Linked DNA regions of Homo sapiens. The protein of the gene in region 3 purifies or fractionates together with the protein of the main gene of each other region. This does not show direct contact. Each region holds a gene or a part of one and is shown on either strand. Other genes may lie near its edges.

Evidence for each region.
Region 1: the proteins of SPRED2 (region 3) and SMCHD1 purify together in Homo sapiens (affinity purification with mass spectrometry; one large-scale study listed by BioGRID and IntAct). This does not show direct contact.
Region 2: the proteins of SPRED2 (region 3) and FTO purify together in Homo sapiens (affinity purification with mass spectrometry; one large-scale study listed by BioGRID and IntAct). This does not show direct contact.
Region 4: the proteins of SPRED2 (region 3) and AP4M1 purify together in Homo sapiens (affinity purification with mass spectrometry; one large-scale study listed by BioGRID and IntAct). This does not show direct contact.

Annotation. Positions count from the first base shown.
Region 1 is NC_000018.10:2,802,122-2,805,517, forward strand, and holds the end of SMCHD1 (structural maintenance of chromosomes flexible hinge domain-containing protein 1), read left to right. Parts: intron 1-406; coding exon 407-431; coding exon of another isoform or gene 432-514; 3' UTR 515-2,896; downstream 2,897-3,396. UniProt on the Homo sapiens protein: Non-canonical member of the structural maintenance of chromosomes (SMC) protein family that plays a key role in epigenetic silencing by regulating chromatin architecture.
Region 2 is NC_000016.10:54,116,656-54,120,155, forward strand, and holds part of FTO (alpha-ketoglutarate-dependent dioxygenase FTO), read left to right. Parts: 3' UTR 1-3,500.
Region 3 is NC_000002.12:65,314,100-65,317,599, reverse strand, and holds part of SPRED2 (sprouty-related, EVH1 domain-containing protein 2), read left to right. Parts: intron 1-716; coding exon 717-866; intron 867-3,430; coding exon 3,431-3,500. UniProt on the Homo sapiens protein: Negatively regulates Ras signaling pathways and downstream activation of MAP kinases. Recruits and translocates NF1 to the cell membrane, thereby enabling NF1-dependent hydrolysis of active GTP-bound Ras to inactive GDP-bound Ras.
Region 4 is NC_000007.14:100,104,643-100,107,090, forward strand, and holds part of AP4M1 (AP-4 complex subunit mu-1), read left to right. Parts: intron 1-231; coding exon 232-298; intron 299-402; coding exon 403-456; intron 457-597; coding exon 598-704; intron 705-802; coding exon 803-897; intron 898-1,316; coding exon 1,317-1,361; exon of another isoform or gene 1,362-1,473; intron 1,474-1,598; coding exon 1,599-1,649; intron 1,650-1,760; coding exon 1,761-1,872; intron 1,873-2,015; coding exon 2,016-2,240; 3' UTR 2,241-2,448. UniProt on the Homo sapiens protein: Component of the adaptor protein complex 4 (AP-4). Adaptor protein complexes are vesicle coat components involved both in vesicle formation and cargo selection. They control the vesicular transport of proteins in different trafficking pathways.

The DNA.
Region 1 (3,396 bases), on a different chromosome or scaffold from region 3:
ATTATGAATATTAAATGTTTTATTTTGCTTGTCTTTGTTACTTTTCTGTAATAAGCATTATAATTCCTGTTCTTAAAATAATAAGTTCATTTAAGGAAAAGGGGGTGAAAGGAAAAATCTGCAGAATTTAGGTCTGAGATAATACCATTTCAAAGCACTGTGATACAAATTACTTATATATGTTATATACTGTGTGTGTGTTAACTACTTTTATTTGGGGGCTTGTTTTGCATACATGTGAAGGAAATGATTATATATAAGGATTTAATTAAATCTGTTTATACCAAGAATTATATTTAAAAGAATATGGTTTCATTGGATATTTAAGCATTCAGGTGTGATGAGGGAATTCAGGGAAAGGAAACCTTTGGTACATAAAACTTTTTTTTCTTTCCCCTTTGACCAGGATTATAACCAAAACAGATGTATGAGAGGTGACAGAGAGAAGAGGCCATTGGTCTCAGTAAGAATGCCCTGCTTTCTGCATCTCTGTTTCAGAAGACCAAGAGGGTGACTTACCAGACTGAGTATTTCTGGGGACAATACAAGTACCTGGGCATGAATTTCCATTTCGATTCAGATGGGACTGGAAACAACCATTCAATTTTATGAATCTTACTGGACATTATGGATTTACTGGAATTATTCCAGACATTATGCCCTTTGGTTGTCACTACCTTGCAAATGTGTAAGAGGAAAATGTGCTAATGTGGCAGTGACTGTAAAACTGGCACATGGCATTTATTAATCCTGAAGAAAAGTACATGTACTATTTTTCAGTATAAATATAATGAACATGTCAGAACTATTTCTTGAAAACCTTTTTATTACTTTTGCGTGAATTTATTTAACAAAGATGTTTTGTCTTTTGTGTAAGGGAGGTTCTAGAGGCTAGATGTTTAATTGTAAATATGTGAGGAAACTCAATGCAGAATTCAGGATAAAAATTTTAAAAGCACAGGTATTTGGGAATTGAAATGTTAAGATACCCAGAACAACATTAAATCAATGAGTGAACTTGTGACAGTGGTAGCATTTCAAATTTCAAAAGACTTATCCTGTGTGTGTGTGTGTGTGTATATATATATATATATATAAATATATATATATAAAATATTCAGCAGCACCAAGTTTTATAACTATTGTTTGTTTGACTTTATTAATACTAGAATATGTAGTCTCAGCCTTAATTTTACATTTACATTATTTTGTAATTTTTTATTACTATTTTTAAGGGGTTAAAGAGAACATACATTCTCACATTAGTGTACTTTCTGGTAGAAAGTTGCTGCAAAAACATTTGAAATGTATATTAACCTAATGTATGTCATATATATGTCTTTGTGTAAGTTCAAGACTATTGATCTGTGAAGTTATTTTGTAAGGACATACATTTGGTAAGTAAGTTTGTGTCCCAGGAAATGTATGTGTTTTTAAACCCTTTCTAAATATGCAGGCCATTAATAAATAAGATTGTTTCTTCCCTACTGAATAGATAAGTGTTTTTCTTTTTTAAAATTGGAAGCTTCATAAAAGTTATCTTGTTAAAAAACGATGATGATGTTAACCTATCTATCTTTATAATTGGAAATTATTTAAACTGTTTGTTGTTACAGAAGAAACAAAATGGTAATTACAGAATTAGCTGTGGGGAAGATTGGCTCCCATGGTACTACAGGTTGAGTATCCCTTATTCAAAATGGTTGGGACCTGAAGTGTTTTGGATTTTGGTTTTTTGTGGGGTTTTTAAATTATTATTTTGGAATATTTGCATTATATTTACCAATTTAGCATCCCTAATCCAAAAATCTTTCATTAGAAATTGGAAATGCTTCAATGAGCATTTCCCTTATGTGTCATATCTGCGCTCAAATGTTTTGAATTTTGGAACATTTCTTGTTTCTGACTTTTAGATTAGGGATACTCACCCCGTACCAATATTTGGAGTCCTTAGACATTAGATTATATGAAAATGATTGATTGATAGGTAAGAAAGGTTAAAGAGAAATGACTTTTTAGGAACTAGACTTGAACGTATAATTAATATGTGGAACTAGTTTGCTTTTATAATTCATTGTATCAAGAAGGAGTCATGTTTTAAATCCAAGGCATTGAGACTATCTAGAAGCAAAAAAGTTGGTTTTAAAAATTCTTTTTATTAGAAGTGTGTTTAAAAACATGTCTTTTTTTCCCTTGAGCGACAGTGGCCTCACTACATTGCCCAGGCTAGTCTTGAACTCCTGGGTTCAAGCAGTCTTCCTGCCTTGGCCTCCTAAGTAGCAGGGATTACAGGCATGCACCCACATGCCAATTTTTATTGCTTAAAATGGCGAGTTCTATGGATATTATCTAGCCCCAAGCCCATATCTGTACACTTTTGTTCATTTTATAATACCAGAAAGAATGTTCTATCAGTAAAAGAAGGTTTTTAAGTATGAATCTCCATTTTTGTGGAGTTTTTCTACCCTGTAAAAATTAACTTTGTGGTTCCCAGTAATTACAGTAAGGAGTTTTTCTATATTTTCACAGTTGGATTTATCTAAGGATATTTCTCAGCATATTAAGGAATCCTTTTCTACATTTGAGCAAATACTGAGGTTCATGTTGTACCAAATAATAATAAATTGCTTTTGTGTTTAATATGTAACACGTAAGAACAATTGAAATTTTCTTCTAAGATTTAATACTAGTCTTTTAGTATAAAGGAATGTAACTGGAGAAAAAAATTAATGCTACAGCCATTTATCCTGTGTTATGTGTTATATAATCTGAAATTTGTCACAATGTTACAATCAGGAAGTTTTTTTTCTGGTTTCTTCTTCCAAAGGAAAATAATAGCCTACTTGTATTTTGAAGTAACTGAAATAAAACTCTCTCCAAGCCTTTTTGCACATTACGTTCATCAGTTTTCATGTGTACATTTGGCCAGGCCTATGGTAAAAATAGGCTCAATTTACTTAACATTTTTATAGGGTTTTTGGTATAAGATTCTTTACAGAGACTAAAATTTGTTGCATATATAACATTCAGATTATTTTAAGTGAAATTGGCTCCTATTGTTAAATATTAGTGCTAAGGAAAGTTCAGTCTTCTAAACTGTCTATACTTTGGCTCTGTGACTTGATTACTTTATAGTCATTATGAAATTGATGGGGTTAATTCCATTGTATTTTTAGTATAGAATTTTCAAATAATACATTTTAGTAAAAAAATTGAATGTTTAATTTTCATACTGTGAAACTGGTGAAAAATATTAAAAACAACCATTTAAAACTTCTGGAAATGGTCCTGAGGACAAATGGCAATGAAGAAACATCTATTCAAGAACATTTACAAAAATTCAGTAAGGAAGATGAGAATCTGTGGTAGTTTGAACCAAGACTGACTACTCACTTC
Region 2 (3,500 bases), on a different chromosome or scaffold from region 3:
GCAAGACAGCAAGGGCACCCCTGGGCCACTGCTGTGTTTGGGAGGCAGGTTTTGGGGGTTGTCAGAAGGCATTCACCTGGTTCTCTCGCTCACCTGAGACACCCGATAGATTCCTGGAAACTCCAGGAAAGTATCTGAAGATCTGGTTCTCCATTCTCTCTTATTAACAAGGAGAACCACAAGTGCCCCCCAGATCCCGGCTAGAAGGACCAGACAGCTTTCCACCCCGGTTCCCAGGCAGCCCTGCTCCCATAGTCCTGTGTCCCATCGGCCCCATGCTCCCAGGACAGTCCTAATTCCCACCTCTCAGAACCTTGTCAGCCAAGTTCTTCCTGCTCTCTGGCCCAAATCCTCCTCCTACATTGGAAACTGAGCCTCTCTGCATCCTCTGCTCTTTCTATCCCGCTGTCATTCATCAGATTTTCCAAATCTTTGGATTCCTGAGTGGCAGAAGAGGTTTTCTGAGTTTAAGTTCTGATTCTGTGTGTGATTCTCACTCTACCACCTCTTCAAACCTTTGTTGTCTTATCTACAAAATAGAATAGTAGTAATCCATCACCTAAGGTTGTTGTGAAGGTTCAATAAGTTAATGCGTATTTAAAATGCCTCCCACAGTACCTGACATATACTGGGCTTCAGTGAGGTACTAGCTATTATTATTAACCAAGTTTCCTGTGGTAACAGTTGTAGCTTTGTGACTGGGCCAAATCACTTAACCCCTCTGCGCTCCAGTCTTTGTTTCTATAATGGGGATGATGATAATGCCTAGCTCATTGGATTGTTCTGTCCCCTACGATCAGCCATGTTAAGTGATTCATATCATGTCTGGTACTTAAAAATCACGCCACGCATGTACATTATTATGATGAAAAATATGATCCGTGATATCCTGACCAAAATATTAAAGGGACTAAAGATAGCTGTGGCTTGTTCAAGAAGAATATTGTGTCACTATCCCATATATTATCCCATTTGCTCTTCACAGCTTCCATTTTTCGCTAGGCGGATGGCATGGAACTTTTTATAAATGAGATATTATGAAAAATGATGTTTTAGGACTCTCATTTCTACAGTGGGAGTAGGTCACCCATTGCAATTTTGGATTTGCTTAAAAAAATTCTTGCCATCACCTTCTAATGGATGATCTGTGTACAACAATTGTTTATTGACTCTGAATGTCTAAGTACCAGGGTCAGTCTATTTCAAGGGGAGGGAAGCATTAATTAACCTCCAGCATTAGATTCAGTGATTCTTTTCCAATGATGCAGTTCATGACTTTGCTCGCATTTACTTTTCATCAATCCTGAAAGAATTGAGGTAAAATAGTTCCTCTGCACATGTGTGTCAAGCTAAATGGATAACAGCAGATACAGATCTGTTTGCCTGTCTGCACTTGCCTTTAGACAAAATTCATCAATTTTACAAAAGCCACTGACTAAACATGGCACCAATACAAATGAAGCACTTCTAGCAGGCGGAGATTCCCTTTGTTTCTGATCTGGTAAATGCGGTAGTTTCCTGCTGAGAGATGGGAAGTGCTGGCCTAGGACAGCAAGGTGCCCTACAGGTGGGGCCAAAAGGGTCAAGACCGTTCTACAGGAAGTTTAGGAGAAGTTCAATGGTTCCAGATCCTGTGTGCTTCGGGTAATTCTGACCCTCTTCATTAGTGATAATGGCATGAAGCTCTTTCACACAGTCTTTTTTTTTTTTCTTTTTTTTTTTCAGACAGGGTCTCACCCTGTCACGTAGGCTGGAGTGCAGTGGTGAGATCACGGCTCACTGCAGCCTCGACTTCATGGGCTCAAGCGATTCTCCTGCCTCAGCCTCCTAAGTAGTCGGGATCATAGGCACTTGCCACCACATCCGGCTAATTTTTTTGTAGAGACAGGATTTCACCACATTACACAGGCTGGTTTCAAACTCCGAGGCTCAAGTGATCTGCCTGCATCGGCCTCCCAAAGCGCTGAGATTACAAGCGTGAGCCACTACGCCTTGCCCTCCACACAGCCTTGCTTGGTGTTAAAGATTAAACAAAGACCACAGGTGATCACTGTCTTCGTGGTGCCAGTTTCAAGGGCACCCTTCTTCCCTTCCCAGCCTCCGAGAGAAGGAGAGAGGGTCCACAAGCCAGATCCATCCCCATCCACACAGGTAAAACCACGACTGTGCAGCTAGCAGGTGGAGATAACATTTGGAAAAAGGCTTTGTAAATGCTAAAGTCCTACTCAAGTCCAAGGGAGAGAAATTATTATTATTCGTTTTGTGAAACCAATTTAGTTTGGCTGGGTAATGGAAGAATTTCTACATACATTCATTACTTCTGATCAGGCAAGACCAGTCTGACACAGGAACAGTCTATGGCTCACTCTTAAAGCCACAGCAGGCTGCCAGGGCTTGGAGAAATAGAAACCTCTCTTGCACAAGAATAGTCTCAATGAATCATGTTAAGGCCTCTTTAGGTTTTTCAGACTCCATGCACCCTGTGGAAACTGCCTTTCTTGAGTAGAGGTACGTTCAGCACTTCATAAAATAATCTTGGAGCCTCCAGACACACGGATGGAGGAGCATGATTTCATTTGTTTCTTTGCAAAACTGCTGTCCCCAACTGAAAAACCTGATTATCCTTTCAAATAGGGAATTCGGCTTTCCACGTTGGAACCAGAACAGTTAACCTTCAAACCCCCAAGGCTTGCAAGAGATGAATCAGTTTCTCAGACAGCCAAAGCCGTGGCTTATAACTCATCCAACCCAGAAAACTGGACCGCTGGTCACCTTCCTTCCCCCTGCCCCCAACTCTGCAGACAGAGGTTTCCCGTTGATTATGCCTTGATTAGAGTCAGGAGAGAAGCAAACCAGGTATATAGGATTCCATTATCCTTCCCTCCTCTGCTCCCAACCAGGGTCACGCTGAGAGGGATCTCGGTGAACATGTGAACAATCAAGCCATGTTTACCATGGACGTTTAGTTTTCTTTTCTCAAAATCAAAACAGAGTTTAGTAGGCAGCGTATTTCATACATGCCCCTTGATCAATGGAATGATCTGTCAGAAGCCATTAAAGCCCCCATTAGCTTGAATGCATTCAAAGCTAAACTATTGGATCATTTAAGGGCTGCAGTGATTGTTTTTAATATACCGTACATTGATTTCTCCCTGTGAGCAGCAACATAAGTTTGAAACTAACTGTGTATGACTAAGGCTCCATTTGCTGTCTCCAACCCTCTGTGAGAAGCATGGTTTCACTTCGACCAGAAATGTCTGTGTATAGTTTTCAAAGAGATGCAGACCCTGTTCGATTTCCCAAGATTTAGACTGGGTCGGGTTGTTATTTCTTTTTTCCCTGAGCTTTCTCCCATTTCTTTGTGCCCATTAAGTGAGCTGTGCGTGCAGAATGGGAGAGGCATCCCTGCCAAGGACTTCAAGTGAAAGGCGGTGGGAGAAATTGTTCTGAAAGCATGAAGCCCAGCTGAGGCCAAAATCAAAGTGAATTTGACAGCCTTG
Region 3 (3,500 bases):
CACAGATGGGATAACCATTCTTTTATTTATGTTTTGTTTTTGTTGTTGTTGTTGTTGTTGTTGTTGTTGTTGTTGTTGTTGTTGTTTGAGATGGAGTCTTGCTCTGTCACCCAGGCTGGAGTACAGTGGCTCAGTCTTGGCTCACTGCAGCCTCCGCTTCCCGGGTTCAAACAATTCTCCTGCTTCAGCCTCCCGAGTAGCTGGGATTATAGGCACCTGCCACCATGCCTGCCTAATTTTTGTATTTTTAGTAGAGACAGGGTTTTGCCATATTGGCCAGGCTGCTCTTGAACTCCTTACCTCAGGTGATCCGCCCGCCTTGGCCTCCCAAAGTGCTGGGATTACAGGCATGAGCCCCCGCGCCTGGCCAGGGTAACCATTCTTGATCAAACTAGAACACAAACCTTTGGGGAGCCTGGTATATCCAGCCTTTCCCCCCGCACCCAGTCACTATTCCCGCATTTAAGAAAAACCTACCTTTCCAGGGTCTGGTGGCTGGGCTTCTCTGCCTGTTGAACCAGCCACATTGTGTTTAGACAATCTGGCCATTCAGGGGTCCTCCTGTTGTAGCCAAGACAAACTCAAGATTTTGGGAAGAGCAGCAAATTGCCACAACCAGGGAATAGCTAGTATTTGAATAGTGCATGTCAGGGTTTGCTGCGTGGGGTTTTTGTTGTTGTTTTTAAATTGACTCTTGGTTACCTCCCTCTACACAGACAGCTACAGACAGTTCTTCTAATTCCTCTCAGAAGAGAGAGCAACCTACTCGGACAATCTCCTCTCCCACATCCTGTGAGCACCGGAGGATTTATACCCTGGGCCACCTCCACGACTCATACCCCACAGACCACTATCACCTCGATCAGGTGAGCAGCAGCCCTGTTCCTCTGAGGGCATCAGGGTGGTGCCTCTGATTCTGGAATGGCCTCTTTCCCCTCCTATTCAGCCAAATTCCATGACCACAGGCCTCTCCTGCTCCTGCCTTTACCCCCACTTCATATTGAAAGTGGCATTGGTGGTGGCACCTCAGCCTCATCCAGTGTTTTCTGTGTGCCAGACACCTTGCCAGACCCTTTATATGCTTTATGTGGTTTAATCCTCAGAAACTGCCCCACAAGGCAAGTCTTCAGCCTCCCCAGGTTATCGATGAGGAAGCTGAGGCTTAGAGAGGTGGAGTATCTGATGGAACGAGATTCAAATCCAAGCCTGTTCTCACCCAGGGGGCTACACTGCGTCCTGCATTCCTCTGTCCAAAGGGCCTCCCAGCTTTGTGTGGAAGCCCAGAGCCACAATCAGGACTAAGGAATGCTGCACACTTGGCTCGAGCCCCCAGCCTTACAGGCTACAGGCCCAGTCTTGCTCAGGCGGATGTAGCTGGAGCTCAGAATTCGGTAGTTCAACAAATATTTACCAAGTGGCTGCTTTGCAGAGCAAGTTCCCAAATCATGGGGCATGGACTGGTGCCTGTGTGGGGTGCTGTGGCCACTAGGCTGCTTTGAAATGAGAAAAAAGGGCAGTGAGTTGTTTTGTTTTGTTTTTAAACATAAAACTAGATTTATTTGACTCTTTTTAAAAAAATTATTTTAGATTGTGCTTCCTAATATTTTGGGATTAAAATGTCCTATTTAAAAATCACATTATTGGCCAGGTGCAGTGGCTCATGCCTGTAATCCCAGCCCTTTGGGAGGCCGAGGCAGGTGGATCACAAGGTCAGGAGATTGAGACCATCCTGGTTAACACGGTGAAACCCCGTGTCTACTAAAAATACAAAAAATTAGCTGGGTGTGGTGGCGGGCGCCTGTAGTCCCAGCTACTCGGGAGGCTGAAGCAGGACAATGGCGTGAACCCAGGAGGTGGAGCTTGCAGTGAGCCAAGATTGCGCCATTGCGTCATCGCAACAGAGCAAGACTCCATCTCAAAAAATAAATAAATAAATAAATATCACATTATGCTAGCAGTAGATGGAAATTAACTTTTTTACTTTCCTTACTGTCCAAAATAAAGAATTAGTAAAGCCCGTGTCAGTTTCCGAGATTTGTTTTGAAATCCTTCTGAAATCATGATTTTCAAAAATCTAGGCAACTCTGATACCAAGAATTTGACAGGAATTAAGGTAAAATGTGTGGGACATGGCCCTGCCCTCTGGTAGGAAGTGATGGGTAAATCTAATAAGCGCATGATCAAGTCCGTAACAATATGATAATGACTGTGATGGCGAGAGTTATCAAGTGCATCCTGTGAGCAAGGCTGTGAGCTGACACCCTCTGTAGATTGTTTCTCTTCATTCTCAAAACAGTCCTATGCAGTTCGACAGAAATGGAACCTGAGTCTTAGGTACTAGCTAGAAAATGTCAGCATTTGACTGCAGTGAGTCACTCCAGAGCCACGTTCCTCAACCCCTGAAAAACCTTCATGCCCAAAGGACTTCGAAAGCAAGAAGTCTCAGTTCTCTGCCTCCACTGAGAGGCCCTGGGTGAGCCAGGGTTATATGCATGTAATTAATAAATATTTATTCAGTGTCTGCTGCTCTGGACAAGGCAGGGTTGCAGCCTGTAGCAGGACTAACTGCAGAGAAAAGCCTCTTCCACCCTGAGGGAGAATGCAGCTTAGATTTGCAGGTTTCTAGAGGGTGTGGCTCTTGGTCTGGCCACTCACTATTTGTGAGATCCTGGCAGGAGTGAAACTTCAGTTTCCGGAGCCTTCACTCTATCCTTCTCCTGTCCGCATCTCACCAGATGACATGGTGAGCTACTGTTTCCTAGTGTCCCCTGTCTCTTGAAGGAGACACCCACAGGGAGAAATGCATCTCCTATTGTGATCCTTTGTGGACATATTGTGCACATATGGATAATGAAGTTTCGTAAAACAGGACTTACCTTCTCACATGTATTGCACTCCAGTGTCCTTATTCTATTTCAATTTTTAAAAAGCCAGCCTTACAAAAGAGAACATACCATACAAAAATAGGCAAAACTAATGCAGGCCTTTAGAAGTGAGTGTAGCCCTCACACTGGGGCTAGGAGATCCCTGAGGGAGGCGGAAGATACTCTGGGGCACAGGTCCTGTTCTGCCTCTTGATCTGAGTGTGCCATGCTCCTGAGAACGCATCACACTGTGCCCTTGCCATGTGCACACTCCCCTGCCTGTATGGCAGTGCGTCACCAGAAAGGGAAAATACTGCCGGTCTCAACCCACGAAATTGATTTCCTGGCCCATTAATGGATTGAGACTCTATTTGAAATACATCTCTGACTGGGCGACAGGATATTCAGTAATTTCAGGAAGGGTCTGTTTCTTCACGGAGCATCGTGATGGAGTTATCGAGAAAGGTGCATTTTGGACGGCTAGGGAGGGAGAAGGTGGGGTGTTTTTTTGTTTGTTTGTTTTTTGGCCGCTGCTGTAAAATAATGTCTCCTCTCCTACGGGACAGCCGATGCCAAGGCCCTACCGCCAGGTGAGCTTCCCGGACGACGACGAGGAGATCGTGCGCATCAACCCCC
Region 4 (2,448 bases), on a different chromosome or scaffold from region 3:
CAACACAGTGAAACTCCATCTCTACTAAAAATACAAAAATTAGCTACTTATGGTGGCAGGCATCTGTAACCCTAGCTACTTGTGAGGCTGAGGCAGGAGAATGTCTTGAACCTGGGAGGTGGAGGTTGCAGTGAGCCGAGATCACGCCACTGCCAGCCTGGGCGACAGAGCGAGACCGTCTCAAAAAAAGAAAGAAAAAAAGACTCTAACCTTGACGCCCCTGCCTCTCAGGGATCCCTGCTGAAGGTGGATGTGCAGGGAGAGATTCGGCTCAAGAGCTTCCTTCCTAGCGGCTCTGGTGAGGCATCTGCAGGCAGGACCAAGGGTTGGGGTTAGGGCGGGTTCCTTGGTGTCTTAAACCATGGCATTGCTGAGCTCTCCTGATGGTCTCTCCTCCGACAGAGATGCGCATTGGCTTGACGGAAGAGTTTTGTGTGGGGAAGTCAGAGCTGAGAGGTGAGGAGAAAGTGGGTCTTTCTCCCCTTGGAGTAGGTCATTGCCAGAGTTCATGGAGAGAAGTCAGACAGAGCCTCCCCTCTCCTTGCTCCTCTCCCAAAACAGGAGTCAGGAGAGAAGTCTCTCTCTCTCTCTTTCCAGGTTATGGGCCAGGAATCCGGGTCGATGAAGTCTCGTTTCACAGCTCTGTGAATCTGGACGAATTTGAGTCTCATCGAATCCTCCGCTTGCAACCACCTCAGGGCGAGGTCAGGGTTGGGGTGGCCTCATAAATTCCGTCCACCATGGGGAAGGGGGCAGTGGGGTCGTGAGACCAAACTAACCTTGTTGCTCTCTGGTCTCTCAGCTGACTGTGATGCGGTACCAACTCTCCGATGACCTCCCCTCACCGCTCCCCTTCCGGCTCTTCCCCTCTGTGCAGTGGGACCGAGGCTCAGGCCGGTGAGACAATTTCCTGGGTTCTAGAACTACCTTGGAACCCAAGCCAAGACCTGTATGTTCCCAAGACTCACTGCAGAGTGGGGGTGGTGGTAGTGGTGATGGAGTGCAAATTGGAAAAAGGCTTGGGTTGCGGCCGGTGGCTCACACCTGTAATCCTAGCACTTTGGGAGGCTGAGGCGGGAGGATCACTTGAGCCCAGGAGTTCCAGACCAGCCTGGGCAACATAGTGAGACCCCATCTCTCTGAAAAAAAAAAAAAGGAAAAAGCTTTGGCTAATGGAGTTGGGCTGGGCTTCAGCCCTTTTCCCTCTTGGGAGTACAGCCCACACCCACACAGCCCCACATGGAGGTCCCTGGTGGGGAATGGTGAGATGCCAGTAGAAGATGGCCTGAGTCGTGGTGTTTTACCCTCTCATCCAGGCTCCAGGTTTATCTAAAGTTGCGATGTGACCTGCTCTCAAAGAGGTAAGAGTGAGGCTGGCCTGGCTGAGTTCAGCTCTATGGGACGGAAGACAGGGCCAGGGCACCTGCTGCTTCTCCCTTCAGATGCAGCTGCCAGCCTCAGAAGCCAGTTAAGGTAGAGGCTGTAGAATTTGGGAAGGTGGGGGGCACCTGTGCTGAAATCCTGTTATGACATTGAAGAGGAACAGGACAAGGGACTGTGCCTTCCTGGGGCTGACTTTGTTCCCGTCTCCTCTGTAGCCAAGCCCTCAATGTCAGGCTGCACCTCCCCCTGCCTCGAGGGGTGGTCAGGTGAGTGTGTGCACCCACCACGGGGAGATTCCTGGGGAGAGAGTGAGCTCAGCATGACGGGTCTGCCTCAAGAAGGTGCCAAGCCCAGCACCTTCCCTTTCCAAACTCCAGCCTGTCTCAGGAGCTGAGCAGCCCAGAGCAGAAGGCTGAGCTGGCAGAGGGAGCCCTTCGCTGGGACCTGCCTCGGGTGCAAGGAGGCTCTCAACTCTCAGGCCTTTTCCAGGTATTCGCTGTGGACCCCCAGCCCCTCTCCTCCCACATTCACTTGCAGCCCCCACCCCACCCTCCCGAAGCAGCTGCTGCCTGGTTCCCCCAGCGTGGTCAGCTTCTTGCCCTCCTTCCTCTCCCTGCCTCTGCCCCTCACAGATGGACGTCCCAGGGCCCCCAGGACCTCCCAGCCATGGGCTCTCCACCTCGGCCTCTCCTCTGGGGCTGGGCCCTGCCAGTCTCTCCTTCGAGCTTCCCCGGCACACGTGCTCTGGCCTCCAGGTCCGATTCCTCAGGCTGGCCTTCAGGCCATGCGGCAATGCCAACCCCCACAAGTGGGTGCGACACCTAAGCCACAGCGACGCCTATGTCATTCGGATCTGAGGCTCCCCAAACGAGGACACGACGGCCAAGGTGGCAGTTTGTCCCACGGGAGGACAGTCGTTTCTTTTCCAGCCTCCTGGCCTTCGGACTCTGAATCTGGGCAGGAAGAGTCCTCAGTCCCAAGACCAGGAGGGGGCAATGGGCCCAGCCTTTCTGTGGTATCTGATGCAGGAAGGACTGCAGTGGATCAGAACTTACAAACCAAACT